Linked DNA regions of Homo sapiens: region 1 is linked to region 2. The links come from fine-mapping of genetic effects on gene expression. A gene starts in region 2. The other region holds a variant in brackets. All regions are shown on one strand. Distances are from middle to middle.

Region 1 (2,930 bases), 130 kb after region 2:
AAAAAAAAAAAACTGTGAAAAAAGTGGTTTGTTATATAGATCACCAAAAAATTATGAAACATTGTCATACAATTCAATGCTAGGTTTTAAATCTCTGTAAAATGAATAGGTTAAAATTAACAATCTTACAATCAGGAAGAAGCAGAAAATTCCGTAGAACCACAATAATAAAATGATGTAAACATTATAAAATTATATGTGTTCAAGTGCATAGAATGAGAGTACTTTTGAAGGTCTAATGTTTTGGGTCAGTTCTACAATCAGGAAGAAAAAAAGACAGGCCTACCTTTCCTTCTTCAGAAGAGAGTGGGGACAGAGGAGATTTGATGAGGGTCAAGTCTAGGAAAAGCTTCACTTTTGCTCATTGTATGTTGATTCTCTGGATACATTCCCACCTGTTCTTTGCCCTGATGATGAGACTTTTACCCAGATGTGACAACTGCTCTCTTCATCTCATCTAGTCTTCTGGAAAAAAAAAAAAAATATATATATATATATCTATATATAGATATATATAGATATATATATAGATATATAAAACATGTATATTAAATGTATATTAATATGTGTATGTATTTATAACATATGTGTAATTTATAATTATATATAATACATATATACATATGTATAGTACACATAAATATATTAGATTATATATGTATAATACATATAAATGTATACATTTTAATATACATGTATATTATATAAATATACATATACACACGTACACACACACATATCCCCAAATACACCAACCACCCTCATGTTTCTTCCCAGAATTCCAACCACCAGAGGCACAGCTTTTTTGGAAATATCATTTTACCACAGTAGCACTGGATGTCTGTCCACTCTGAAATGATAAAAATTCATAATATTGACTATATGCAAAGGAGGCAGCACTGACGTCAATTTTTTCTCCAGAACAGAGAAAGAGGAGGGGACTATGTTAGGGCAATGAATTTGCGAATAATAGCATGAAACAGTCTCTTGGTTATTCTCCATCAAATATGACCACATCATCAGCACACAATGTCCATCCTCCCTTATCTCTTCCATCTACGCCTAGAAACTGCTCTCTTCCCTGTCTAGCACCTGCCACCACTAGACTACTGCAGATCTAGTTGTTCTAGCTCTTCTCATCTTTACACGCTTGAAGCATTCCTCTTAGATGAGAAGCTCAACACACTTCCCTTTATTCTTTGGGAAACGTTTTTAGCTTAAGTCAAATTCTCACCCCTAGGAATGAAAAAAAATTGACTCCCAAACCTCTGACTTTGTAACCCTTGGACACCACTGATTTCCTATCATTTCACCCCACTGATGTACTTGAACTCTGTTCCCTGAGAAGGGAGAGGGCAGACCCTTGACCCTAGAACCAGACAAAATGTACTCGTGTCCACTTTCTCCCTTACTCTCTGTATGACCATGGGATGGTCTTAACCTCTCAGAAGCACAGTTTCTTCCTTCCAAAATGAAATAATTAATCTCTCCCTCTCTACCTTCTTGAGCTCATAGGACATGAAGAAATAATGGATTTTAAAA[A/C]AAACAAACAAAAAAACTTTGGTGCCTTAACAAAACGATTTAATGTGTGGAAACATCATTGCTATGGATGTGGGTTACCAGAAAGATGGTTAGACAGTGAGGTTGCAGGACCTGGCTCCTGGGTGTTTGAGACGTATCAGGAGAGGAATCCTGTCTGGAGAGGCCTAAGACCTTCAAAGCCTATTTCCACTAGAGAAGTGCTCAGATAATATCTGAGGTTCCATGTTTTTTGGGGAAAATTACCAATACTTGGCAAAGGGGATTTTATGAATACCAAACTAATAGTGGTCTGAATTTTGTGTGTTTAGAAAAGCTCTATATTGTCAAGTAGGTGTACAGTTTTAGACACTAAGATGTCACCTTTTCATACTCTTCTAAAGTATCTGACTGAGATGAATCAATTGTTTACACCAAGGAAAAAAACTATTCCAGAAATGCATATCTCTTTTTTTAAATCTAAATAGAATCACAAGGAAGGATCTGTTCTCTTCTATACCCACAGGAAAAATATAAATATATAGGAGTTGTCTGAATGAAAAATTTGGGGTGCTTGGCAGACAAGATATAATTCTCTTATAGCAAATGAGACATCATTTTTTTGAGACAAAGTCTCACTCTGTTACCCAAGCTGGAGTTCAGTGGTGCAATCTTGGCTCACTGCAACCTCCACCTCCCGGGTTCAAGCAGTTCTCCTGCCTCAGCCTCCTGAGTAGCTAGGACTACAGGCACACGCCACCATGCCTGGCTAATTTTTGTATTTTTAGTAAAGAGGGGATTTCACTACGTTGGCCAGGCTGGTTTTGAACTCCTGACCTCGTGATCCACCTGCCTTGGCCTCCCAAAGTGCTGGGATTATAAGCGTGAACCACCACGCCCGGCTGAGACACCTATTAAATACAAAACCAGAGCTAGATGGAGGTAATGCAATGGTGATGTCACGGGGGTCTGATACTGCAACACCTTATCCCTAATACCACTATTGATCCACACACTCTGTGACTCTCCACCACCCAAATTTTATACCATAGAATGCGATTTATTCTCGGTAGTTTTAGAATGCTCAAACCCTAAATTGTGACCAGAAATTTACAATAATATTATATCTAAATTTCCTGTCCTGGGAGATGTTTTATTCTGATTGAACTCCGGGCAATTCTAATGGCTACACATCTTTTCTCACAACACAAAAGGACAATCTCTGTTCTCCCACATATATCACTTTATGATGCCATCCACATTCTAGGAAGAAGAAAGAAAACATAAATTAAGAAATAACAGCTTCGGGGCCGGGCGCGGTGGCTTACACCTGTAATCCCAGCACTTTGGGAGGCCAAGGCAGGTGGATCACGAGGTCAGGAGATCGAGACCATCCTGGCTAACACGGAGAA
Region 2 (2,930 bases):
CCAGAGCTATTATAGATGACTCGGGTTGCAGGATGCTGTGTGAGCTGGTCTTGTTGTTCCTGTGATGGTGGTGGAGGTGGGGGTGAAGACTGGACTTGTTCTAGCACTTGTCCTGCCAGGAGAGCTGTGAAAGGGTTTCCTCCAAAAGGATCTTGCATGCTGTTCAGCATTTGATCATTGATATCAGCATAGTTCTGACCCAGGGCATTATTCCCACCTGGCATTGTCTCTAAGCCCAGATATGGCTGTGGGTTCAGTGGATACTCAAGGTTTTGTGAAGGTTGTTGGATCTGCATTATCTCTTGGATCATAGCAAGGTTCCTGGCCAGCTCCAGAGTCTGCAATAGGATCTCAGAATTATCAAGAAGAAGGCGGGAAACTTCTGGGTTCTGCTGCATCAATTGTTGCGTGTCTAGATGTTCTGAAATGAACTGCCACATGAACTCCATGTTGGACAGAAGCCGCTGGATGCTAGGATTCTCCAGCATCTGTGCTTTGCACTCTGGGTGGCTCACTTCCAAGTTTTGGGTATGCACTTTGGGTGCATCAGACCCCACAAAGTGGGCCAGTTCCACTGGAGCTTGATTCATACCAGTTGGTTGGTGCACTCTGCTGCTGTTTCCTTTGGTGTTTCTGTCCCGGTGGCAGGGATCATTCGTTGGCAGGTCCCGGAAGGAATGGGCTAGAGATCTGGAGCCCTGCTTGGACTTGATGACCAAGTAGATGGTGTGGCCATCCATGATGCCCCTCTGGCTCAGTGTGTCATGGTCTTTGAGAAGGCAACCCATGAAGACCAGCACTAGTTGGTCCATCTGGCATTGGAAGTGAGCCAATAGCATCTCCTTGAACTGCCTTACCGAGATGTCATCAGCTACCATAAAGTCTTTCTGGTTGCCTGCAGTCTTCACTATCACTCGAGTGGCACTTGAAGAGATATTTTTGTCTGCCAGCAGACCTGATGGACATCCACTCTGGGACATCCTGGATGTTCGAGAGATGGCATGCCACATGGGCTTTAGTGGGTGGGCAGATGGGGAGCAGGTGGAAGCTGGGGCAGAAAGGGTGAGGGCAGACAAATGTTTCTGCTGGCCTTTGTCTCAGGTATTGTGCTCTCAGGCCACAGGATAGTTTCCTTGTTGCCCTAAAAGGGATGAGTGACCAGACTGGGGCCAGATATTTTGTGATGTTGTGCCCTCACCCCAGTTCTCCAGATGTGGCCCAGCTGAGGCCTGGCATAGCTACTGATTCATAATTCACCCATGGTGGACAAAGTGGTGATGACTTCTCCTAGGGCTACCCCTCCTCCTACCCCACCCACCAGGGGCATGAATCCTCAGAAAAGGGATATTGTGATGTCAACTCTATCCTCGCAGTCACCCTGGGCCAGCTGGGGAAGGAGGACATATTTAGGGGTCCAGGGCTCTACAATAAAATAAAATAATTTTCCAGAAAACAGGGACAAAGTTCTCTGGATGGAACTAGTAAGAAAACAAAAAAGTAAATAAAAACCATATTTTTAAATGTGGGATGTGTGTTTCCGTGTGATACTGTGTGTATGTTCCTTATAGGGATGTTAGACTTGTATGAAAAGTTGGGTCTACTGAAGCCATAGATAAAGCCACATTCCTATAAGAATGCAGTCTCTCCCATAGGAAGGAGCGCATTAATTTTTTTAATGATCTGGAAATTTGGGTCTTATATAGAGTCTAGATTTTGGGATTCTATATTTAATTGTGCTCCCATGTGGTGGGGAAAATTTTCCTCTGTCCTAGGAAGCAGGAGTAGGGCTAACCAGGAAGGCTCTTCATAGGCACATGCCAAACTAAATGTGAATTAGCTCTTTTTTATAATATGCCTTTTATTCACATATCACTTGGTCTCTTCTACATGTCAATATAACAGAAGTTTTAGAATGATTTGTTTCAATGTCCTAACCCACTCTTGTGTGCCCACCTTTATGTCAAAGCATTAAGGGGGAATGTCGTCTGTAAATCAAGAGGTGGGAGAGGAGGTGGTTAGTAGTAAAATTCTTAAGGGGACAAATACAGGCAACTAAAAAGCTGGATTCTTGGTCCCATGTAAATTTGGAGAATTGTGTTTGGTTTTTATTTAGATGCAGATGGAAATAATTATTTATATGAGTGAGAGTGTACATGTCTTATCGAATGTATATATGAAATTGTATGCATATTCTGTGTTACTAGGAAGCCTTCAGGGTCTGGATTTTATATATTCCATCCACCTGCCTGGAGAGGGAGGAGCACCACACAGATAGCTAAGGAACAAGCAAAAAGCTCGAGCCCATATGTTCCCAGTGTGTTGAAGACAAGCAAAGGGATGATAGGCCGTTGGCCAGGAGACCTTCTGCTATCAAACCAATGATTCTTTATTGAGAATATCTAGACCCCCAGCACCATCCATGTCAGATCCTCATCATGCTATAAGGCCAGTTGCTAACTTACTACAGCAAGACTCAGGCCTATTCTCTTGCAATTGCACTCAAAAGTGAGATCGATCCAGGACAATGAAAAATTGATTACCAGACCAAGATCTTGCCCCTTTTCTCCCCAGGGACCTCACAGGAAGGTGGAGATAAGAAAGGGAACTTTCATATCCTACTCTAATGACCAGCTGCCCTGCAGCTTCTGCACTGGAATCAGGTGTTCCCAACCTGAGATTGACAATTCTAGATCACAGAACTCTTGAGTTCCGGGAGCTGGATTTATGAAAAAAGGAATATGAGATGCCAAAGCATCAGAAAGAGAGGGTACCATTTTCTTAGCTAATATTTTACTTTTTCCCTATCAAATCCACCTAGACCATTATTAAAGGGAACCTTAATGTACTGATTGAGATATTAATTACATAAAGAACTCACTAGATATAATCAGTCTTCCAATCATTAGGACCAATGGCCACTTTGGGATGTG

What was found. PIP is the estimated chance that this variant, and not a neighbour inherited with it, causes the effect.
Region 1: its variant is the best candidate, but not a certain one, in a credible set for the expression of UBQLNL in lung (TOPMed, PIP 0.68).

What each region holds. Positions count from the first base shown.
Region 1 is chr11:5,645,399-5,648,328 of GRCh38, forward strand. It overlaps a transcript of TRIM5 not described here. Among named protein-coding and RNA genes, the nearest start is that of TRIM34, 22 kb to the left of the region's middle. The variant A/C (reference allele first, on the strand shown) is at 1,543.
Region 2 is chr11:5,515,432-5,518,361 of GRCh38, forward strand. UBQLNL (ubiquilin like) reads right to left here and starts at 1,268. Exons shown (of 1, transcript NM_145053.5): 1 at 1-1,268. The coding sequence starts at 1,010. It also overlaps the pseudogene OLFM5P.